Regions from separate parts of the Homo sapiens genome. Here region 2 is linked to region 1. The links come from fine-mapping of genetic effects on gene expression. A gene starts in region 1. The other region holds a variant in brackets. All regions are shown on one strand. Distances are from middle to middle. Region 1 holds the start of TSHB (thyroid stimulating hormone subunit beta). Region 2 holds the start of TSPAN2 (tetraspanin 2).

Region 1 (12,900 bases):
ATATCCAAGGCTGAATTAATACAAACCCAAGTTTCTCATATGCTGTACATTTAACAATGTCCAAAGTGTCAATATGACACATAAAGTTATCACCACACTGGCCCTCCTTTCACAAAGTTTAGAATCTTCATCGCTACAGAATCAAGCAAAATCACCAAGCAAAAATACAGTCCAGACCTACATTACTGTTGCCTGCTAAAGACCATGGCATAGATTTTGAGTCATCTTGGAGAAGGAGGGTAGAAAGAAAACATGAAAAAAGGAGAAAATGTGGATTTCATCTTGTTTAAGACTGGTTATAAATGCCATAATGAGGAAAAAGAAAGAAAGGAACCAGTTAGGCAGATAGCTAGGATAAGTCCTCTGTAGGATTCCTTTTGTCTAAAAAAGGAACAGCCTGAAAGATCAGACTGCAAGCATAGATAAGGAGGCAAGGTCCACCATGAAGATACCTTCTGTGTAATTAGCAAGGGTCACTTATACACAGTAGGCTTCAGTGAGCACATTCCTTTCCTTTTTTGAACATACTGAGATAAGGGAGTTTGCACAGGGGAGGGAGGAGAGGGCTTGCTTGAAACATGCCCAAGAGCAGTAACACAGAACCCGGCACATCCACAATGGAGAATTCCGCCCCCTTACACATGCACAGTAAGGGAAACTAAGTAATATAGAGTAACTTAGGCTAAGAGTCCACATGCACACTAAAAAGACAGGGAGGAGCTGTCAGGAATTTGTGTCTTATGCAAATGAAACACCTAGTCCTAACCATTTTTTTACACCTTATGTAAATGAAATATCTTGCCCTACTAGCCTGTTTATAAAAGCCCTTGTATTCCACTGTAGAATAGCAACCCTCTTTCAGTTTCCTGCTCGAAAGGAGAGCTTTCTCCTTTCACTTATTAAACTTTCGCTTCATCCTCACCCTAGTGTTCATGCTCCTTAATTTTCTTGGTGGTAAGACAAAGAACTCTGAGTCCTACTTAAAAACAACAAAACTAAAACATTGTGGTGCATTGGCAAGGCTGCTACAATAAGATGTATTGCATTGTGAATCCAGATATGTGAGGACCACTGGGCCCTCTAGGGAAGAAGGGAGGTCAGGGCAGATTGGGACTAACAGTTGTCCTGTATATTGGCCCATTAGCAAGTCATTGTTGACCTTACTGAAAACAATTTCAAGAGGGGACAATAGTGGAAGCCAAATTGTAATGATTGTGAAGAGAACGAGAAGTGAGGAAGTAGTTGGTTAGTGTAGTGGGCTCTTTCACACACACACACACACAAAACTCGAAATAAGAACTCAAGGAGAGAGGGGGCAAATAACTAGATGGTTGCAGAGGATCAAGAGAGGGTTGTTTTTTTGCTTTTGCTTTTTTTATGATGGAAAGAGATTTAAGGATGCTTCATACTGAAAAGAAGGAATCAAGAAAAAGGAAGCAAGAGAAAATACGACAGCAAACAATGAAGTCCTAGGGGAGATGAGGAATGGAATTAGGAGCATCTTCTGAAACTAGTGGGAAAGAGCTGAATCTATCAGAACTTCTCAGTTGCAAGTGTCAGAAACCTAACTCTAACTGGGCAGAAAAGGGAAGTTATGGTTTCTTTTAAGGGGTGAAGCCAGCTTCAGATTAGGCTCAAATGATATCAATAGGCCTCTCTCTCCTCAGTCTCTCTTGCTCTCCACTGGGTTGGACAGCTAGCTGTTTCCAAGGGATGCCAAAGATGGCCAGCAGCAACTCCAGGCTCACATTTTATCAGTTTAGGAACTCCAACAGGCCAACCACTTCTCTTTCTAATAGTCCAGGTTTGGTTGAGCCTAGTAGCATACCCACCCTCATCATCCCCACTGAAACCACTTGAACTCAAACTGTAGGTGAAGAGAACCCCAGAGGGAAATCAAGGTGCAGCTACCAGAAGAAGAGACATGGATGCTAAGCAGGCAGAAACGGCAGGTAGAAGGAGGGTAGCAGAAGTAGAGAAAGTGAGATAGAGTTGTCTTATAAGTGGGGATTAACCAGGAGAGATAAGCAAGTAGGGAAGAACCCAACAGTGAACAGTAGAGTGGAAGTTAACTTTATAAAAGAATTTTTATTGCACTTAGACTCAGACAGTTCAAATCCTTGAGAAAACTTTTTCAGAATCCATGAAGGCATTTGTGACTAGTCCCTGTTAGATTTGAACATTAGACTTTTTATTTATTAAAGATCTGTATTTGACATACAGTTTAAGTGGTATGCAGCTTTAAATGTCCATGTTATCAGCTGATATGAGAACACAAAACCCTAGATTAATATGTGGAGACCACACAAATACCAATTTCAGATATTAAAGTAAAATAATGTGAGTTCTGACTTTTGTATGTAAATACACATCTATTCCCTCCCTGTTGTACTAATCCATCTACAGGACCCCACCACTACCACCACCACCCTCCTCAGCCCACCCCATGCACTATCAATCAGCATACAGACATTTACAGTATGCCTAGCTGAATTTAACTGGTGGCTATAGAATACAGCAAAGGCAACTGGCCCTGCTGACAACTGTTTTTCACCTTGGTGGGGCAGTGTGAATGAAAAGGAATGGACAAAGAGAGGATATATCAACTTTTTGAGATCAAGTCTACAGGGCACTGGGTCTGTCTCACGTCAATCATCTGTTGAAACCAAATTCTCATGAAAGAGTGTCTAAGGAAGGAGAATAAAAATAAACAGCTGCTTACCAAGCACATTTACCAGAAAACAGTGTTTCAATATTGATGAAGGTTTAGATTAGAATTTAGAATAATTCCACTCTCTCAAATCCCTTTGCACTCTCCCCCATCCCTAAAACCTTTTATTGTCATACCAGTTTTTCATTACATTAAAAGTCAAAACAGCACCAGTTACTTTTGGTATAAATGCTGAAAAGCATCTCCTATTACTTGAAGGCCTACAAAGGATTTAGACTTCCACATGTAAAATGATCGTGGCCTCTTTTCTAGGCTTTGTAAACTGACTTTTTGGGGTATAACTTTCATAGGTCACTTGGTGCACCAGAGTAATTAATTAAAGAAAATAGTTCCTAGACTCTTCTGAGTTTGGGTGGAGTTTTATCCAGTGCATTTGAATGACCAGGAATAAAGCACTCCACTGTAGATTCCACATGCTCCTTACTCCCCACCTCCATGCCAGCCCTGCTTCTAGCCTTTGGAAGTAGATGTCTCCAGTATCCTGACACCATGTGTTCCTTCAGCTTTTGATCACATTACTCTCTCTTCATAACTCTGTAGTCATCCCACATTCACTTTCTATATCATAGAAACCTCCTGGCCCTCTGTTAGGAGAGACTGTTCAAGGTGAGCTTTTTGGCATTTCATATCCCTGTTCTCCATTTTACCACCACTCTGCTCTTTCACGTGAAAACCAACCTTCAACTGAGCCCAAAAGGTCCATTCATTCACCTTTTCTTCTAAAACCACTTAAGCTCTCTAACGCCTGTGTAGGTATGGGTATGGATTAAATAGTACTCAAAATGAACAGAAGATAATGTGAAACATAATATTTTTATTAGCTTTATTTCAGGCAAGCACATTTAACCAAATTGCAAATTATATCACTATTAGACAGAAAATCCTACCAGATAAGACTTCTGAGGTTTGGTACAGTAGTTTGTCTTGATGGCTTCATGTATGCAGTCACTATAGTCAGTATTGCACTTGCCACACTTACAGCTTAAAGCAACAGGATAGGAAAAATAGGGAGCAACATGGAGTGGGCATCCTGGTATTTCTACAGTCCTGTAGATGAAGTCTCTATATGTGCAAACATCCTGGGACAGAGCATATTTGGGAAGAAACAGTTTGCCATTGATATCCTGGGGAAAGAACAGAAAAGAGAGCATAATGTGACAGGACTTTAGGAAACATATAGATAATAGAAACATAAAAATAAATTCACTTATATTCCTTCATCACAAATACAACTGGGAAAGAATTGCTTAGCCCCATTCTCCAATACCAACTTAACCACGTTGAATTCTACAGAGACAAAAGTGAGACCCTCCTCTCTTTCATCGTTGATCATGGGAACAAGATAAGGTTTAAGTAAAGCTGGGACACAAAACTGTTATAAAATTATGCGTATCCATTGTGCTGAGTAGATTCACATAATATTGTAACCTGTGTACTCTGCTTCTAAGGAGCCAATAACCATTAGATTTGGGAAATGAGGTTGTGATTTATTTCATTTCCTTTCTATATAGGAATGGACTTCTTCAGGGCTTATATAATTTACAGCCAAAAGAAGTGACATGAACTACATACCCGTGTCATACAATATCCAGCACAGATGGTGGTGTTGATGGTTAGGCAATAAGCACACTCTCTCCTTTCGATGTGCATTGTATACTCAGTTGGAATACAAAAAGACATCGCTTGCCCACATGTAAGGCCAAAAAGCATGGACATCAGAAAGAGAGCAGTCATGCTAAATCAAAGATAAAATTAAAGAACCTATTTGTTAAAATCAGAAAGGGCAAAGAAACCAAGAAAAAGTATAACCAAACTTCAGTACCATCCCAATGCATATGATCATGCTTATAATTCTACCATTTGGTCAAGGAAGACACCAGAAAGATAAAGTCCAAAAAAGGTCAACTGAAATTACAACTGGTGTTAAGGGGCTAACTCAGAAATCTAGGAACCCCCTGATCCCACTTCCAAACCCTTAGGATATCCCTTTAAGGTGGAAATATGTACAGCTGGGACAAATTAAAGATTATTTTACACAGAACAGGTATGTAATTTGTTCTCAAAAAGATTAACAGGCAAAAAAAAAAAAAAGGTTGACACAATTAGAAGAATACAATCAAGGATGACAGCTCCATTATGGGTTAGCCAGGAATATTAAATAATTTTTGGATGCATGGAAGAAAATAGAGGATCCACAGTGCCTCAGGCAGAAACAGAACATGCATCTCAATAGAGCCTGCGTGATGAAGAACTTGTTCAATATCAATTGGATATCATTATCAATATGTATTGATTGGATATAGTTATATTGGATATGATATCATATTGGATATATCATATCAATATGATATTGATATGATATTGATATTGATATCATTATCCCTCTGGATAATGTTATGACATAATTATTTTAGGTCTACTACTGAGGAAGGGTAATTAAATTTCAGACTTTTGAATGTAAGTTGATCACCTTGAAGATTAAGAAGAATTTTTTTAATCTTACAAATATTGTACAGCTAGCTAGATGTGTTTGGATTTTTTTCCTTCTCAAGTATCATTGTCAGTAAAGAAAATATATACCTTAATGGAGTAGTATTGTGGTCTATGAACATAAACTTGTTTGCTTGTTCTATTAAATAAAATATAATTTACTAAATATTTTGTTCAATAATCAGAAGTACCAAGATTTCCCCAAATCTGTCAGTTATATCCCAACAGCATCTTTAAGCTATATACACTAAAACCTCTGTAAACTGAAACCTCATAGGTTCGGCCTTGGTTAACCAGGATTTTTTTTTCAATCAACTTATAAGAAACCATGAAAACCACATTACACAGGTTACCAGGGATTTATTTTAAATGTCAAATTCCAGAGATCAGTGGTCATTTCAATCAACCTTCTATTCCTAGAATGAGAATTGTAGATAAATTAGATAAACATATATTGAGCATCTGAACCAGGCACTGACAAACACAAACGGAAAAGCTACGGTCCTTTACCTAAAGGGCTGACTGTCCAGTGGAGGAGCTAATATGAACACAAATAATAAAAACGCAGATTGTTCTAGTGCTCTGAAAGAGTCCAAATTAAGACTTTAAGACCTACAATTATCAAAGATTTATGTTTACTATACTTCTTATTACACAAGAAAGTAAACTAACCCATTTTAGGAAGACTTAACTTTTAAAGGTTAAAATAACAGGGGTTTTTCTCACAAATTCTTTTAAATGAAATGTTGCATATTCAAACATTCCACGGAAGGTTTGTTTGGTATTTGAGTTAAGGAGCAAAAACATACAAATTCCTTACTCATGGAATCTGGCTTTCTCAAGCGCTTCTCAAATGTGAGCTCCCTCTATGGTACAGAGTTGCTTCCAGTATTTTAGAGATACAGAACTTGATGATCCTCTGTAGGATCTTAAAATTACTAACTGGTAAATTATGTAAAATGCTTACCCATCATGGCCATTATAGTTCTTGCTTGTTTAGACAGCCAGCTACTGAGTTTTTTCTATAGGAAACAACTAACTTCACATATTTTAACTTTTAGCTCTATAATTCTGTATAAAATCAATGTGGTGACCTGGTGATGAAAATATTGGTCTAAAAATTAAGAAACAGAATTCTTCCATAAATCTATGAGAACTTGACTAAAATATATAATCTGTTTGAGTGTTATTTCCCCATCTGCAAAATAGAAAGTGACAAGTACACCTGACCCTTTTTAAAATGTAGGATGAAAATTTGTTTTGGTTTTCCTATTGTCATACTAACTATGGATACTCTATATTTTTTTGAAGTTTCTCCTATAAATGTAGAACTCTAAACTAACAAAAGTAGAAAATGGAAGTGCTGAATTACCAGCCACAGTATCTGTACAACTTTGTGGGCATAAAGAAAGCAAGAACTTTTCTTTTCCTTTACTTCTTTATTGCGAATAGTAAAACTTCACCCACAGAATCTTTCTGGGCCTCAACTTTCTCACCTATAAAAGCAGGGCTTAGAGCCAGAAGATGATCATGAAAATCTTCGCAGCACAAATAGTCTGTAATTCTATATGATAAATTAGTGTCAGATCTGATTGATTGATTAAGAGTTAGTGATCTAAATTCTACTTAAGGATTTAATTGTAATTGTGTGCAACTGAGCAATTTAATATCTTTGTGCCTTCATTTTTCCATATGTCCCTTCCTAAAATCATAAAAAGAATAAAACAATACATGTGAAACACTTGGCTCTCTATATAAGAAAGATCACATAGCTGTATAACACTGTACAAATCCGCGTTAGTTAATCCCTTCCTCTGTGATATGCCACAATTTCTTCCTCATTGTCATCTGGGTTCTCATCTTTGCCACTTAATTGCTTATTCTGAAATCACCATGAATAATTTGTTGGGTACCTAAACATAGAAGGCATGGTTTCAGGCAGGGCCTAAATAATGAGATGCCTTCTTCAGATGCATGGACATATATGTCCCTACTTTGAACGTATTTTCTTATTCCAAGATATGTTCTTTCCTTTGCCTCTTTCCTCTCTTTTTTTCTCTTATTTTTGCTCCCAATGCTTCATTCTTAATAAACACTTTCCTCTCTGCTCTGCTAATTTCCTTCATTAATTTTTACTCTCCAAATCCCTTACTATGAAAAGAACTAATTGCCCATCCTATGAATAATCCTGGAACTTCACTAAAGCAGTATATTTTTCTAGAAAGCAAAATGTACTATACAGCAGCTGTGTGTGTGTTGAACACTATCAAAGGAGGTTTAGCTATTAAATAACTAAAAAGAACTTATAATACAGAGTACATTACCCCAGCAGGTACTCAAAAATGAATTTGCTCTAACATTCCCGGAAGTACATTTTCATAAAAGATGGCCATTAGTACAGTAATTGAGAGGATTTAATACACACATCATTAAATGGACAACAATATTTAAATCAAAATGAAAACAGAAGAAAGCCATGAATATCAAATATCCTTCATTAGGGAACTAATCAGTTGTTTCTCTTTCTTTAAGTCAATGAATTTTTTCCTTATCCTTATGTAGGTAGTTCTCTCACCTCCATCTACTACTAAACAATTTGGAGCAGTAATTTAAGATATTACAGCCTGTTGAAGCAAATTATCTTTCAGCATTTGCCACTTTCTAAAAAATGATAAAATGGTGAAAGTGAAAAAAAATAGCTTAAGAACATATCATTTCACAGAGCCTTCTCACTATAGACACCTACCTTACTTTGCATTGGTGAGCAGATGCTGTGGTGACCCAAACTAAAAGCTCTTGGTTCATTTTATACCCTTCAGGATAATCCCTCTGATCTTCTTGTTTATACAATTGCATTTGATTTACTGCTTTCTTATCTGAAAAGCATCTATTGAAAATTCATACTGAATTCCAAATAAAATGTATTTAGACAAACAAGCTCACAATATCTTTACCTGGAAACTGACATTATTAAAGCATGCATTTTCCTCTCTTCTGTTTCAAAATAAAATTACCTTTTAAATATATTCTTTATTAATATTTATTTATTAATATTAATAAAAGATAGATACAGAATGGGAAAAACCAAATTCAAAAAACACTCTAACATCATCTAAATAAGTCTTGGGAATAAAAATTTATTTGGGGCTTGAGGGCTTCAAGTTTTACCTAAATGTTCATGTAAAGATATATAAAATTATTCCTCATCTAAAAATTTTGTTTAGAACAAAATGTGTAGTTCAAAATATTTTTGGGGGATTTTAAGATATTAAGTAAAATTTACACATGTGAAAGAATGACTCTGAGGAACATGGCCACATCTGACAGGATGTCAAGCTGACCTGAGATAAAATTTTGGCCCTGCCATTTACTTGCCATATGACATTGGCATGCTTGACCTCTTCAGTTTCTATTAAAAGGTAATATCACTTCTCTAATGATTTGTGGTGTGAGCATTTTTTCATATGCTTATTGGCCATGTATATATCTTCTTTTGAAAAGTGTCTGTTTATGTCTTTTGCCCACTTTTTAACGGGGTTCTTCAGTTTTTGCTTATAAATTGTTTAAGCTCCTTATAGATTCTGGATATTAGACCTTTGTCAGATGCATAGTTTGCAAATATTTTCTCCCATTCTGTAGGTTGTGTGTTTATTATGTTGATAGTTTCTTTTCCTGTTACATCAGGTAACAAAAGTACACGATCCTAGAGAGATGGGAAACAAACAGGGAGAAACTGCCTGGAGAAAGTTTCTGGGCCATAATGCAGAAGCCCTTTAGTTAAAGGTCCCATTTGTCAACTTTTGTTCTTGTTGAAACTCCATTTGTCGTCTTCGTCATGAAATCTCTGCCCGGTCCTACATCTGGAATGATATTTCCTAGGTTATCCTCGAGGGTTTTTACAGTTTTAGGTTTTACATGTAAGTCTTTAATCCACGTTGAGTTGATTTTTCTATATGGTGTAGGGAAGGGATCCAGTTTCAGTCTTCTGCATATGGCTAGCCAGTTATCTCAGCACCATTTATTGTACAGGGAATCTTTTCCCCATTGCTTGTTTTTGTCAGTTTAATTGAAAAAAGAATGATTGTCAAATCAGGCAGCCCTCAGAATCAGAAGAGATTCACAGAGCTCTGCTCCTCAATGTGGGCAGACAGCATTTATGGACAGAAAGTAGAAATGAGATATCGAAACAGCTTGATTTCATTATACATCAGCACTTGCCTTACTTGGACAAAGTCTGATCAGCTGGCTGCCTGTAATTGACTGAAGCTCAGCTGCTGTGATGAGCTGAAATTCAGCTGTCTGTTACAAAAGTATACTCCTAAGTTAGGCTTTCAGGTAGTGTACATACTAAGTTAGGTTGCAGTTCATTATGTAGGAACTCACAAAACAGAGGTATCCTCAGGCCACATTTAGTTTAACAGATATATACCTAGAAATGGCCATGCCAGGGTCCAAGGTCTTGGGAATGTGAGCTACTATGTAGTAAGATAATTTTGAAAACAGGGAAACTGGAAATGAGTGTGCCAACCTAATTTCAGACAAGATGCTAACACAGGAATATGATAAATGGAAGAATGTTGGATGTGTGTTTCTAATGGAATTAGTGCCTCCTTTGTATAAAGCATTGATTCAGGAACTCATTTTCTAGCGGATTTATATACCTATCCCTGGGAGATATATGTATGTATGTGTGTGTGTACATATGTAATGGACAACTGATAGACACTTGGCCTGTTACTAAAAGAACTATAATAAATACCATGCATTTGGGTAGTGATTTTCTTGCTAAAGAGGCCTTAGTGTATATGATCTCATACTGTTAAAAGAATCCAGGCATGTTGAATTTGTGCTTCTGATCCAGGTTTACTTTCTCACCTAAAATAATTATAAAACAGTACAAAATATATAAAATAATGTCTTTATACATATTGGACATCAGGTAACAAAAGTACATGATCCGAGAGAGATGGGAAACAAACAGGGAGAGACTGCCTGGAGAAAGTTTCTGTGCCATAGTGCATGAAAAGTTACCAAGGCAGAGGCCAGAAGCATCACCAAATTGAAGAGATAGACCTGGGAGTCCATGGATCCCCAAGGCAGCTAGAGTTCACAAGAAAGACATTATCAAAAAAGAAAACCACAAACTAATAACCCTCATGAAATGAACATAGATGCAAAAATTCTTCACAAAATTTAACAAAACAAAATAAACAATATGTAAAAAGAATAATACATCATGGTCGAAGTGGAATTTATTTCAGGAATGCGAGTTTAGTTTGCATTCAATTAAGAAAATTCACCCTACTAACGGGCTAAAAACTAAAAGCCTTATGATGATCCCAATGGAAACACACACACACACACAACCACATACACAAAAAGCATTTTACAAAATCCAACATAGATTCCTGAAAAAATTTTCGGCAAACTTGGAATAGAAGAAAACCTCCTAACTTAATAAAAGGCATCATGGAAAATTTATGATTAATATCATGCTTAATATTGAAAGACAGAGTACGTTTACTCTAAGATCAGGAAAAAGGCAAAAACGTCTGCTTTTGCATCTTCTATTAAACACTGTGCTGTAAGTGCAATGTTAACGCAATAAGCCAAAGGAAAAAAGACATTCAGATGGGAAAGGAAGGAGTAAAATTTTATTCACATACGACATGACCATCTATGTTGAAAATCTTACTGAATCGCTGATTTCAAGATGGTAAACCTATGGTAATTAAGAAAGTGGTGTTAAGACAGATCATTGGAACAAAATATGGTCCAGTAATAAACCTGTACACATGTGGTCAAATTATTTTCAAGAAAGGTGAAAACAAAATTGAGTAGAAAATAAATAGTATTTTCAACAAATGGTGCTGGAACAATTCGTTATCCATATATAAAAATAAATACTTTTTAAAAATAAATAAATAACTTCAATACATATCTTGCATTATATACAAATATTAACATGAAATATAAAAACTAAAATTCTAACATTTCTAGAAGAAAGCATGGAATAAAACTTTTGTTAGGGCCGGGCGAGGTGGCTCACGCCTGTAATCCCAGCACTTTGGGAGGCCGAGGCGGGCGGATCACGAGGTCAGGAGATCGAGACCATCCCGGCTAAAACGGTGAAACCCCGTCTCTACTAAAAATACAAAAAATTAGCTGGGCGTAGTGGCGGGCGCCTGTAGTCTCAGCTACTTGGGAGGCTGAGGCAGGAGAATGGCGTGAACCCGGGAGGCGGAGCTTGCAGTGAGCTGAGATCCCGCCACTGCACTCCAGCCTGGGCGACAGAGCGAGACTCCGTCCCAAAAAAAAAAAAAAAAACTTTTGTTAGGCAAAACTTGAATTAGGCAAAACTTTCTTAGATATAACACCAACAGCATGATCCATTTTCAAAAAATGATAAATTGGACTCCATCAGAATTAAGAACTTCTCTCTTCGAAAGGCATTGTTAAAAGAACGACATACCACAAACTGAAAGAAAAGAAACTTGCAAATTATATATAAGATAAAGAACTTGTATACAGAATATATGAAGAACCTGCTATACTCAATTATAAGAAAAAAATTATCCAATTTTTTAAATAAGCAAATGTTTGAATAGACATTTCACAAAATTATGTAGATGGGAAGTAAACAGATGAAAAATTTTCATCATTAGTCTCAGAGATAAGAAATTAAGACCTCAATGACAGCACTACACACGTCTTGGGCTGCCTAAAATTTAAAAATTGGAAATACCAAGGGTTAGCAAGGATGTGGAGCAATCGAAATTTGTATACAATGTTTGATGGAAACATAAAATGGTACAAGTTCGTCAGTCCATAAGTCTCTCAAAAAGTTAAACATACACCTACAATATGACCCAATCATTCCACTCCTCAGTATTTATCTAAGAGAAATAATAAGATATATCCATACATGAACTTGTACATAAACATTTATAGCATCTTTATTTTTAATAGCCCCAAACTGGAAACAACCTGAATGTCCATCCACAGGTGATAAACAAATATGTCATATATATGCAGTAGAATATGTGTCAGCAGTAAATAGGAATAAACTACTGACACAGCAGTGACATGAACATCAATAATTATGTTATAATCTTAATGTTATTAAGACAGACCAAAACAGAGTACATGCCATATAATTCAGTTTATATAAAATACCAGAAAATACAAATTAGTGTAAGACAGCAGACTAATGATTGCCTGGGGATGAGGAAAGGCAAGGAAGGGGAAGAAAGAGGGATTTCCAAGGGGCAGAGGAAATATTTAGGAGGTGAAAAATGTGTTCATTATCTTGATTGTGATGATGGTTTTACAGGATATACATATGTTAAAACCTACCAAAATATATGCAGGGTTAGGGGTTGAATTATGTACCCCCAAAATTCAAATGTTGAAGTTCTAACCTGTAGTATATCAGAATGTGAACTTATTTGGAAATAAGTTCATTACAAATGAAATTAATTAATATGAAATAATACTGGAGTAAAGTAGGCCACTAGCCAATATGATTGGATATATCCCCTTCCAAAAAGAGGACACTTGGACACAGACACATGAACAAGGAGAATGCCATGTGAAGAATGAAATTATGTTGCTTCAAACCAAGGACTACCAGAAGCTGCAATAGAGGCCTGGAATACATCCTAGCTCAGCAGCTTCAG
Region 2 (12,900 bases), 52 kb before region 1:
ACTGGCCGGCTGGGTTGAGGGCAGCCCACAGGACTCAGGGCGCCGCCTCCCGCACCCTCTCTCAGTTCTTGCCTATTAAGGTAAGAGTCCCCCGAGGAGGGGGGAGGGGCCGGAGGGAGGGTCCCCTAGAAGCTGCTTGTGTGCTTGCTCCGCGCCGCGGAGCCGCAGCCCTGGACACTCAGTCAGGTGCCCCGCGACTGGTCCTGCCAGCTTCGGGGCAACCTCCGACCCCACTTAGCTCTTCTACCCGAGGTCACCTTCCTAGATTTCCATAGCCACGAGACCAAGTGCTTATCCCTCAAGCATCGCCCGGGCCTCAAACCGGTCTCCGCACAGGGCGCTGATTAAATGGGTCCCCAGTCCCCGGTGGGCGCTCCCGCCCTGCAGGTGCTCCGATAGCCGGCGGCGGTGCGCCCACTGGAGGGAAGGAAGGTGGTCCCTGGGTCCGGGAGAAGAGCGAACGTGCTCCCTCGGGCTGCTCGATCTCCACCCGCTGGCGCCCCCACCCGTCGCCAGCCACGCCGCTTGGGGTCCACGCGCCCCTCCCCGCCGGGCCCCGCCCCGCCCCCCGGAGGCCCCGCCCCGGTCCTCCCCGCTCCGCCCCCTCCCCGCCGGAGCCTGCCGCTCCCCGCGCTCGTAGCGCGGGCCTGGGGACTGGGGATCCCGCCGCCGGGCCGCAGCATGGGGCGCTTCCGCGGGGGCCTGCGGTGCATCAAGTACCTGCTGCTTGGCTTCAACCTGCTCTTCTGGGTGAGACCAGGAGCCGGGAGGGCCGGTCAGGGCAGGGGGCCGGGTGGCGGGCGCGGGGCCGGGGTCCCCGAGCTGCTGACTGCGGCGTCCGAGTCGCGCTCGTGGGGAGGGCTGGGTGCTCAAACGCGGAGGCGAGGAGAAGGCAAACAAAGAGGGAGGGGAGGGATGGAAGGGAGAGAACGGGAAGACAGAAGGTTGATCAATGAGAAATGGTGAGAAGGGGAGAGACACCGTGTGGCTCTTTCCTGGAAGGAACCCCCACCTGCCTTGGTTTTTATCTCCCAGCTAGTGACCCCAGGTGCGGGGACCCAGCCTCTCCTCACCTCCGGAGGACTTGGGTCCCTGTTCCCCTCCAGTCTCCCGTGCACACACCCCCTTTTCACTCTGCCTACCAGCTGGAACCAGGGCCTGGCCAGGGTGATGGGAGAGAAACCCCTGCCCTGGGGCTGCCTGGGGTGGTGCTCCATTCGAGTGTGTGGACACTGTACCTGGCTGTGATGGTTTTGTTTAGGAAATTGGAGATAGGAGTGAAAATTGTGGTGGGGGGGCGTCGTCCTTTTTCTGGGCATCAGGGTAAGAGTACCCCTGGGTGAGAGGAGGTGGTGGGTTCTCTTCTGAGAAGGGGATGGGGAATGGAAGGGCTTCTAAAGGGCAGCAGCAGCTCTCCACAACCCCCAGCCGCAGCCTCTGCTAAATACTAATTCTCCCAGAGATGATCTCATTCAACTTTGCAGGGTTTGATTGAACTGACAGCGTTCCCAGGATTCATGGTTCACAGAGAGATAGGATCTTGACCCTTGTCTCCTATATTATCGAGACAGGGATACAGCTAGACCAGACCTACATCCCTGGATACCCTGTCCCAGGGCCTGCAGGACTGTGAGACAAGGTCTGAAAATTGTCTTTTCTGCACATTTCCTCTTGGGCTTTCTTAAGAGAATGTCAGCCAGTGTAACTGCTCAGCTAGACCCTGAGGGGAAACATTGGATAAAGAGGTTTGAGAGCAGCCAGGGCCTGGGTGCTTTGAAACTACCAGGTTGGAGGAGGTGGCTGTCCTATCTGCTCTGGGGGACGTTGTCTTCCCATGATTGCAACTAATTAATTATTGAATGATGGGCTCCTCTTTTGTCTGTCAATCCATTAGCCCAGATGCCTGGGTGACTTCAGCAACTCCAAGCTCTTCAGTATCCTTCAGCAGTGGAAGGTGTGAAGGAGGTACCTCCTCGACATCCCCTGAACTTTAAAGAGACACATGGCCTTTGTACACGTGGGGATTTACATCAAGCATACTATAGGGAGAGGCGTTTCTGAAGACCCTTTATGTTGTATTTTTTAGGAATCTGGCTTAATTTCAGAAGCTGTTAATTATAGATGTCACGCCACAGTGACAACCTTCATTCTCACTGCTTATGAATTCAAAGCCTTATGAAGTTTTAAGCCTGAGGAGGAATTCTTAAGCTGGGTTCAGTGCTTATTTAGTGGCTGATATTGTACCAGCCTTTCCAGTGATAGCTGGAAGGATTCATTGAATGTTTTCAATGTGTCAGGGACAGTGCTAAGCATATTACTTTCATTATTACACATAATCCTCACAAGAGTCCTGATATACATATACTATTATTATCCCCATTTTTTACAGATGAGGAAACAGGCTCAAATTGGTTAAGTCACCTAAGATCACACAGCTAGTGAGTGGCAGGGATGGTATTCAAACTCAGCCTACCTTCTCTTTTTTTTTTTTTTTTTTTGAGACGGAGTCTCACTCTGTAGCCCAGGCTGGAGTGCAGTGGCCCGATCTCCACTCACTGCAAGCTCCACCTCCCAGATGCACGCCATTCTCCTGCCTCAGCCGCCCAAATAGCTGGGACTACAAGCACCCTCCGCCACGTCTGGCTAGTTTTTTTGTATTTTTAGTACAGACGGGATTTTACCGTGTTAGCCAGGATGGTCTCCATCTTCTGACCTCATGATCTGCCTGCCTCAGCCTCCCAAAGTGCTGAGATTACAGGCGTGAGCCACCGCGCCTGGCCGCCTACCTTCTCTTAAGCACTGTGGTACATTCAATTAACCAGTGGTTCTCAAAAGTGGTTCCTGGGCCAGCAGCATCAGCATATCCTGGGAATTTGTCAGAAATACAAATTCTCAGGCCGGGCACAGTGGCTCATGCCTGTAATCCCAGCACTTTAGGAGGCCAAGGCAGGCGGATCACCTGAGGTCAGGAGTTCGAGACCAGCCTGGCCAACATGATGAAACCTCATCTCTACTAAAGTACAAAAATTAGCCGGGCATGGTGGTGGGTGCCTGTAATCCCAGCTACTTGGGAGGCTGAAGCAGAAGAATCTCTTGAACCCGGGAGGCAGAGGTTGCAGTGAGCTGAGATGGTGCCACATTGCACTCCAGCCTGGGCAACAAGAGCGAAACTCCATCTCAAAAACAAACAAACAAACAAACAAAATTCTCAGCTCATCCCAGACTTGCTGAATCAGAAACTCTGGGGGTAGGATCCAGCAATCTAATTTAACAAGCCATTCACATAATTCTGATCCATGCTCAAATTTGAGACCCATTCTGTTAAACAATGATTAAACAAATAATAATTTATAAATATAAACACAGTTCCCTAAGCTGCTCATCTCATTGAGGAAACGAGACCAGTGGATATGGAACAACACAAAAATAAGACAGTGTGGAATCAAGTGACAAGTTTCACACTGTTGACCGTAAGCACAGTAAGGAAAGGAAGTAGGAGCAGTGCAGTTTTAAGTGCTTGAATGTGTTAACCAGTGAGGTTAGATCCGACCTTCTCTATATGTGATCTAAGTAAGGAGTTTAGAGAAAGGATCACAGTCATGATGAGGAGCCAGAAAAGTTCTCCTTAAGAAGGAGCTATTCGAGCTAAACCTGGAAGGACTGGTAGAATGGAGCTGGGCAAAGCGAGGGGGTGACGCACCATCCACCAGCAGAGGAGCAGAGCAAGGGGGAGTGTGCGCCACCATCTGACTGTCGAAGCCATCAGGCTGGAGTGCAGAGATCCCAAGCAGGGCGTGCCTGCACAAACAGGGTGTACTTGAGCAAGTTATTGTTACTTCTAGGCTTGTTTTCTCATCTGTGCTATTGGAGTAACAGAAATATTGAGAGGATTAAGAGGGAATATATAAAGTATGTGACCTCAACTTCCTATGAGCCTAGGACATAGTAAATGCTCAAAAATATTAATTATTATTTTTGTTATCGGCACATAGGAAGCATTCAATAAATGTTAGCTCTCTTTCTCCTGATTCCTTTCTTGGTGGGGAATAGTATATAAGTTTGCCAAGTGACTTGCCATTTGTCTTCATTTGAGGATAACTACACCTTATCTTGTCAATTTGTACTTGTGGATTTTCCCCACTAGAACTTAAAACACTCTGAGAGCAGGAATTTTGTTTTTTCTGTTTTGCTCATAGCTGTATCCCCAGTGCTAGAATAGTGCCTAGCATATAGAAGGCATGCAGTAGGACATGAAGGACCTTCCTCTCCCCCAGTTTCATGGGGGGTGGGGGTGGAGGCAGCAACTAGAGCGAAGAGGCAACTGAAACAGGCACCTCATGACTTAAGGGAAAGTGTGGGATAAAGTATCTAGATATCTGCCTTCACTGTAACTGAGGGAACCTGATTCCAGAAAAGCCCCACTCAAGTTTCTAAAGTTGTTTTTTTGTGGTTGGAGGGCTTCGTGGGAAGTTTGGGAAAGGGGTGGGGGATAGTTTTCCTAGAAGGCCAGACTTTAGCTGTGACTGAAGTATAAATTTACACACACCCTTAGAAGCTCATGTGCCTGCCCCTCGGAGTTACGGGGTTCCTTGGGTGACAGCACTTCCTTCCAATCAGAACCTCGCCAGAAGTAAGCATAGAGGTGGGACAGGTTCTGTTTGGTGATCTGCGATTTAACAGATCAATTTGCAGCCTCCTCTGGCAGCTTGCTTTAAGTTTCCCTAGGCTGTGCTCCTGGTTTCATAAACATACAACCAGGCCCTGCCAGAGCCAGCACAGTATTCCCTGGCCCAGGGCCGCTGACTGTACTCACCACTGAATTTTTAAAAACAAAATAAAGCCTAGCCATTAACCCCACTACATTAATTTCTCTTATCGTGGTTGATGTCAAATGTGAAACCCCTCCCAACATCTGTCATGTCTAAATTCAGACCTGCGATCAGATAGCACAGCATATTCCTGTGCCTTTCATTGAAATCACCTTTTTTTTTCCTACGTTGCATAGCAATATAAATAAAACACTACACCCCCACCAAGCCGCATATGTTGGCTTAAAGGAAAACCTGGGCGCTGTTTATTCCTTGGTTTATTGTTGTATGGTCAGTGTTTTCCTATCATTGTGCTGCACTAGCTGCTCAGCGTTACTGACCCACAGGAAGCAGAGCTGTTCATTGTTGAAAAGCAGATTCCATATATGGCAAGTCTGAAGTTGCCCTCCTTTCCTTCTCACCATTATTAATACAGCTTTGGGTTTTCACTTGGGGATGCCTAACAGGTACATTTAAGAAAGACAGTGTCTTGCAGGCTTGGGAGTCAAAGAAGTTTGACTCACATGAATCTCATAGAGGTCACCTTCCACTCTTTCCCAAACTTATTTCAAACAGTAACTTCAGAGCAATCACCTGTCAGAGACATTGGTTTAGGAAAAAATACCTAAAGAAAGTATTCTTTGGAGACCAGCCCATAAGGCAGATAGGAATGTTCTCAGCCTCGCTGGAGGAGAATCTTCATTTCTGATTTTTGTCAAGGTGGAAAGAGAGTACCAGGGGCCAGTGTCCCCTAGTGTGGACCTAGAATTGCTAGGAGGAACAGATAGCCTACAAGAGGGGACAGTCTGAAGAAGCCACAGCTATGGTGCCAGGGTTCCGGTAGACCTCGGACAGACCTATGCAGCGTGGCAGTTCAAATCCAGGAATCCAAAACCTGGGCAGTGGATACTGACATCATACTGCCTGACTCTATTCCTGCCTCCACTCTTTACTACCTAGGGGACTTTGGGCAAGTTGTTTAACCTCTTTGAGCCTCCATTTTCTCATCTGTATAATGGACATAATAAACTACTAATATCTGTGAACTTTGTGCACATAAAATGAGTTAATATATGTAAGGTTATAAGTATGGTTCATGCATACAGTAAATAATAACATATCAGTAATAGTTGTTTTTAAATACTAGAAGTACAAATGGGAAAGTAGAATCTAGAATCCAAGAGGTTCATAAAGTCACAACAAAGCAGGCAGGTGTTTTACATCCAGCTAAGCAAGCAAGGTAGCAAGAGGCTTGGAGTTTATCAAGGGCATGGAGTCAAAAGGAGAGATCACTTCCTCCACCGTTCCCTGCCAAGTGCTGGGAATTCAAAGATGATTAAGACACAGCCCTTGATCTTGAGGCACTCATGCCTTTATTTAGCCTCCATTTTGCCTTTGATTAGAATTTATTCCCTGTTTAGTCTTTGCTCCTTGAGGGCAGGGACTGTGTCCTTTTGGCATCCCCTTTCTCCCAATCCCTCAGTACCTAATAGAGTTAAGCATGGCTCCAGCTAAGGTAGTTGTGTGCACTGACCCTGGAGCAGGATCTGTTTATTTCCTTTCCCACTTCTGTGCTACTAAGTGGAGGCCAAGGAAAAGCAATGGGAAAACCTTTGGTGATCAGTGCCTCTCAAACTTTAA[C/T]GTGCGTACAGATCACATAGGGAGCTTATTCAGCTTTATTCGGATTCAGTGGGTCTGCATTTCTAACAAGCTCCCAGGTGATGCTCGTGTTGCTGGTCTGGGAACATGCTTTGAGAACCCCTGTTTTAGATGTGGCCTGAAGAGGTCAGAGATTCAGCAGTGGCACTTGTTTCTGACTGAAGCAGGGTGTGCCCTGCTTCTTGGCTTACTCACTTGGCTTGTTTTTGGCAGTTCTTTTAATTTCAGTTACCACTTTACCTTTATTAAGTCTCTTTTTTACGCTAATACTTGATGCTTTCTGGAATTACCGGGAGGCCACCTGTCCATTGTTCATTGCATTTCACCTTGTTGTTCTAGAACATCAGCCATGAAGTGTCTTTGGGTCTCCAACCATGTGTGACAAAAGAGAACGTAACCTCTATCCCCCAACCTTGACAGTTAATATCGCGAAGCTGCTCCCTTAAAACAAGTGATGCTATACTGAGCACTGAAACAAATCATGTCATGGTTGCTAAGGAATTAAAGAGAGAATGCTGCCAGCAAGATGGAAATACCAGATGGGCTGGGAGCACATCTTACAGATGAATTAACTCGGGTTACCTTGGCCTGCCTTTTTCATCCTCTTTGAATTTGATTGGGAACAAAAATAACAATGCTTCAGTTTACGAAGTGCTTTCATATGCGTTATCCCACCTGATCATGAATCACAACAATCTCACGAAATAGTGTAATTATTCCCATTTTACAGTTGTGAAAGCTGAAAGTCAGGCACAGTAGGTGGTATGTCCCAGGTCTTCTGACTTTAAACCCCATGCTTTTTTCATTGTTTTAATTTATTGGAACGTGTAGAATATAAGGTATAAGAAATGCTGCTAACTTGGAAAATCTGAAGCCTGTGATCAGGGAGATTATATTCAGTGTCAGATTTAGTCTTGATGCATTCCAGAAACAGGTACAAAGAGATGCCTAAAAATACTAAGGCATATGGGAGAAGAAGCAGGAAGGAGAGAGGTTGGGAACACTGCTGATCAGTTTCAGGCAGAGGAAAAGTAACATGGAAATTGAGAAAGGGTATATATCAAGAGACAGTTTAAAAAGTTAATTTCAGGAGCAAAAACTTGAAGAATAGTAAGCACTATATAAATGTACACTATGTGCCAGCTGCTTTCCTAAGCATTTATTAACTAATTTAATCCTCACAACAACCCTATGAAATAGTAGCAGTTATCATCCCCAGTTTACATATGAGAAAACAGAGGTCTGAAGCATTGAAGAGACTTGAGAGCTGGCCAGTGGCAGAGCTGTGTCTCTATGTGTGTCCCCAGAGTCTGTACTCATAACCACTCCAAGTCTACAGACTATCGGAGAGGAAGGTTGAAGCTCTGACAAACTTGTGAATTCTAGACCTGCACTGTCCAATGCGGCGACTATGCTACTGATCACATGTAGCTATTTAAATTAATTAAAACTAAATAAAATGTAACCTTCATTTTCTCAGTCCCACTAGCTACATTTCAGAGCTCCATAGCCATAGGTGCCTAGTGGCCACAACGCTGGACAGCAGAGATATAGGACATTTACATCATTGGAGAAAGGTCTTCTTGACAGCCCTAGCCTAAATATAGTTATTCTTTCACTCATAAATATATCTATTCATATTTTTCTCTTATGGGGTCTTAAAAACATTAAAGAGAGGAGACATAGTTTCCACAAAAGGCTACTGACTTTCTAGTATAGAAGATTTAGAAAACCGAAAGGAATTCCAGCTGTCATGGAAAGAGGGAGTGTGGATCTAAAATAAAAATTAGTAGAGGACGGCTGCAGCAAACCACATTATTGGAACCATGGGAGCGATGTTTCCTATCTTGAAGATTAAGCTTTTGGTTTGAAGGTAACATTAGCAAGTCTACCAACATAATAGCACAAAGTGTGAGGCACTTACTGTTCTCAGTGTGTAACATGAACTCATTTAGTCTCTTTAGGAGGCACTATTATTACCTTCACTTTGCAGATGAGGAAGCTGGGGTTAGAGAGGTTAAGTGGCTTGCCCAAGATTATAGGACCAGTAAGTGCCAGAGTCTGATTCAAACCCAAATGCGTAGAACCCCCATTTTTATCCACTACAACTCCTTTACACCTACGTACCGTATGCACGCATGTGTTTATTACCCTAAGGGCATCATTATATATTCTGAACACCCAGAAGAGGTGAATTTCTAGAAGAACAGTTGGCAGATATTCCAGGATGTGTACCAAGCTCTGTCCTCCACATCGTAATGGTGATTGGGAAAGAGTCAGCTTATTAACAGGGGTGGCAGAGCAAGGCTGAGCAGGGCCAGGGGTGCATTGGAAGTTGCTGTCACTCATCCAGGAAGCCGACTTTGTCTCCCTGCTCCCGCCAGAGTCTATCTAGCCTTCTGTGAATGGACCAGTGCTGCACCTTCCTGACCTCAAACAGGTCCTGGTAAAATGGCTTTTAAGAAAAATCTCTATAGAGCACCAAGCTAGACTTTCACAATTTCTGCTAGATTCCACCCATGCTAACTTCTTAGTAAACAAATTGTTTTGGCTTTTCTAATCTAGCCTTAGTTCCATTTGAAACATTTTTTTAACCACTGTCATTCTGTAACAACTAAAACTGGATGAAGATCATTATTTATTGATCAATAATTAAGAATTGTTTATCTGCTCCAAAGTAGTTCTCCCAACCACTATAAATAAATATTGTTTAATGTGTTGTCTTTGCTTATGTAAAGCTCTATATAGATGAGATGTCACAGTAGTCATTGTGGCCTCCAAGATAAGTGATTATATATGCAGAGGGCAGGCCTAGGATGAGAGCCAGCTGGATGTTCCAAGGAGGAGGTCCGCTGAACCTAGAAAAGACCATTTTTTTCCTCTCCGGGCTTATCCCCTTGATGAGGTAAGTAAGGCAGACATTGAGTTCAGTTCACTTCTGTGACTTGGTAGACCAGATTTTAGTTCTGTACATATTTGATCTTCATTTGAGAAAGCCATCTGCTCCCTGGAATCCTTAGCCAGTAGTCTATGACATTTCATTTTGCTGTATAGTATAAAGAAGACTACATAGGCTGGGCATGGTGGCTCACACCTGTAATCCCAGCACTTTGGGAGGCTGAGGCAAGAGGATCACTTGTGCCCGGGAGTTCAAGACCAGTCTGGACAACAAAGTAAGGCCCCATCTCTACCAAAAAATAGAAAAAAATAGCTGGATGTGGTTGCACATGCTTGTAGTGGGAGGAGGAGGTGGGAGGATGGATTGAGCCTGGGAGGTCAAGACTGCAGTGAGCTGTGATCAGGCCACTGCACTCCAGCCTGGGCAACAGAGTAAGACCCTATCTCAAAAAAATAAAAAGCAAGAAAACTACACAGCCATCGTCTTTCTCCTAATTCTTGATGTTCCCTAATCTCCTTCTCCTTCTCCCTGTATTGTTAAGAGAAAAGACATTATGTATAATCACCAAATAAACAACACATTTTCCACTGTCTATATGTAAATTATCTGCTCTATCATTTGCAGCAAGCTTTTCATCCCAAGTTAGTTTCCTTCCCCTGAGCTTATATTTCTCCAGCACTTCTAAACTGCCCCCAGCAATGTTGGTTGACCCATGCAAGTTAACTTTATAACAATTTAAACAAACTGAAGGTGCATCTGGCACAAATGTATAGCCCAGTGTTCTTTGCAGAGATGAATGGAACACTCCTGATTTTATTGTGGCCTGAATTGCACCACCCTTCCATCACTGCAGAGAATTAAGCATTGGTCAATTATAAAATATACTCTTACCTGAAGGAAGTTTTTCTTACTGTGAGCTTTTTCTTAGGAAATGGCATGAGGAAAATAATGGGGAGATCAGAAACACTGGTACCTAAAGGAGCTGCCATGCATTTCCAGACTAACACAGCCTTCTCATCGCCACAGGCTGCCACAGTCCTGCCTCTCAGTTCCCACTCACCTGGTCCTGATGAAGGCCAAGGTAGTGAGGTCCTTCGGAGACCATTTGACATAGATGTCATATGGCATTCAATTCTTGTATTTTTTCTGATAAAACCCTTGATTTTGAAGAAATGCCATCTGAATCCTTGACTTGCTTTTACTGCATAACAGAATAAAAATCTTGGGAGCTGGTTTTCCTCTTTGAGAAAATTCAGATCATCTTCCAGAGCAAATGTGCTTCTGACTTTTGCCTGCTAAGAGGGTGAGACTCCATTACCCTTAAGGTATCATAATGGGGTTTACAATCAGATCAATAATCATAAGTGCTCATTATGTGATTCCAATGGGGATGAGAATTGCCACCAAGAGCAAGTATTAGCTTAAAAGCATTTAATGAAAATTCTAGGGTTGAAGCATCATTTCCAATTTTGTGACTTCATCCCAAAGAAGAGAATTGCAAATGAGTTGGTATTCACCCTGGAGAAGCAAGAATACAGAATTGATTTTGTTCATTCTTTCATTTGAGTGCAGCATGCGCGTGTGTGTGTGTGTGTGTGTGTGTGTGTGTGGCGCTATAATTGTATTGTGTTCATATGCCCCTGCCAGTGGAAGGCATGTATACATTGTGTAGATTTACATTGTGTAGATTTATTCTTTGTATCCGTGGATGGTACACAACACACATTCCTGCAGGCTTAGGAAAACACAGAACTGATACTATGTGCTCTACTTTTGTTTTCTGTTTCTGAGGCATGTGTTTTGCTGAGCATATTCAACAGCGTGTTCACACAGTGCCTTCGAAGGTATCTGCAGTGTTTCCCAGGTGCAGATGAGTTTGAAAATAGCACTTTGTGAAGTATTCCCTTGGAGACTTGTGAAGGAGGTTGTTCGCAATTGCTCCTGTCAGCCTGTCTTAATCAGCTCAAGCTGACATTTTAAAAATATAATACCACAGAGTGGGGTGGCTGAAGCAGAAATTTATTTTTCACAGTTCTGGAGACTAGAAGTCAGAGGTCAGGTGCTGGAGGTTGGAAGTCAGGTTGGATTCTGGTGAGGGCTCCCTGGTGAGGGCTTGTGGACAGCTACCTTCTTGCCATGTCTTCATATGGTGGAGAGACAGAAAGCAAGCTCTCTGGTGTCTCTTCTTATAAGGGCACTAGTCCCTCATGATGGCCCCACCCTCATGACCTCATTTAAACCTAGTTACCTCCCAAAGCCCCAACCCCACATATCCTCACACTGGGAATTAGGCCTCAACCTGTGAATTTTGCAGGTTGGAGGGATACAATTCAGTCTATAGCATCTTTGTGAAGGTCCTCCATTCACTCATTTAGCAAATGTCTATTGGGAGCCCACTCTGCAGGGCAGAGGGGATTATGTTTGGGAAACAGCAATATAGACCCTGTCCCTGCCCTCACAGAGCTTAGGCCTTAATTTACAAAATATGGGCATATTTAAGTAGAAAACATTATGTGAGATATAAAAGAAGGTACCTATCTAGGTCATGGTAGGCTTCCCTGAGGAATTAATGTTAGAGCTGTGAATGGGTGTCAGCTAGGGGGAGGCGGAGGAGGGAACAGCAAGAACAGAGACCTCCACAGGGGCAGGAAGGATCTGAAACTGTAGCTGGAGCATCTGAGGGCCAGGACCTGTGTTTCCCACTTAGGTATCAGTGCACATGCTGTCTAGAACTTCCCTAAATGATGCTTTTTACCCCCAAAGGGGGCTTTTTTGCTGGACTTAGTCACTAGAAAGTGGATAGCAGGTATTTGCTCTTGGTGATCTGGTTGGCTAACCTCCAGGAAAAGGAGGACAGCTGGGCAGACTGGGGAGGCCAGAATGAGGAATGATCTCTGCATTCTTGCATCTCAGCACCACCCCACTCCAACCGCAGCGCCTGCCTAGGGACCATGTTTGCAATTTGTGAAACCTGTCTTTTTTTAAAATGAAAAAATATGTCCTCAAGATAGGACATCTCATCAGCAATCCCAGGAAATGGAAGTAAGTACAGTAAAATAAAATTGAAATCTATTAGCAAGCTCTGCTTCATGCACGATGACTTTTTTTTGGCAGATAGCCATTATTAAAGAAAACTTTTTGTCCATCCACTTTGCTTTAAATGCTTTCTAATCAAGTTTTCAGTCCTTCTTCTGTTTCTTGAGTTTTAGAACACACATTGTTTTCACTAAAGACATATGCTTACAATTTGCAATTTCGTGTCCTCCAAACTCTCTGGAATATGGTTAGCTACTGAAAGAACTTGCCCAAGACAATACGTACTATAACCATATGTGATGATCCCCTATTTAATGACTTGGAATTATTGTCACTATCTATTCCTTTCCCTGCATTCTTATCTTCTTTTTTTTTTTTTAAGTATTTTTCTTGTCCTCTTTTTAACAGTTGGCACACTCTTGCCCTTAAATACTATTTTATCACATTCTCTGAGTACCTCACATACAACCGGTCCTCAGAAAAGGAATGATGAGGCTG

Evidence for each region. PIP is the estimated chance that this variant, and not a neighbour inherited with it, causes the effect. A credible set is the group of variants that fine-mapping cannot tell apart.
Region 2: its variant is the best candidate, but not a certain one, in a credible set for the expression of TSHB in cerebellar hemisphere (GTEx, PIP 0.82).

Annotation. Positions count from the first base shown.
Region 1 is chr1:115,024,928-115,037,827 of GRCh38, reverse strand. It overlaps TSHB (thyroid stimulating hormone subunit beta), which reads right to left and starts at 8,002. Exons shown (of 3, transcript NM_000549.5): 1 at 7,968-8,002; 2 at 4,304-4,466; 3 at 3,526-3,855. The coding sequence starts at 4,465. The coding sequence ends at 3,601. RefSeq lists an enhancer at 306-600.
Region 2 is chr1:115,077,214-115,090,113 of GRCh38, reverse strand. It overlaps TSPAN2 (tetraspanin 2), which reads left to right and starts at 611. Exons shown (of 8, transcript NM_005725.6): 1 at 611-750. The coding sequence starts at 682. The variant C/T (reference allele first, on the strand shown) is at 6,450.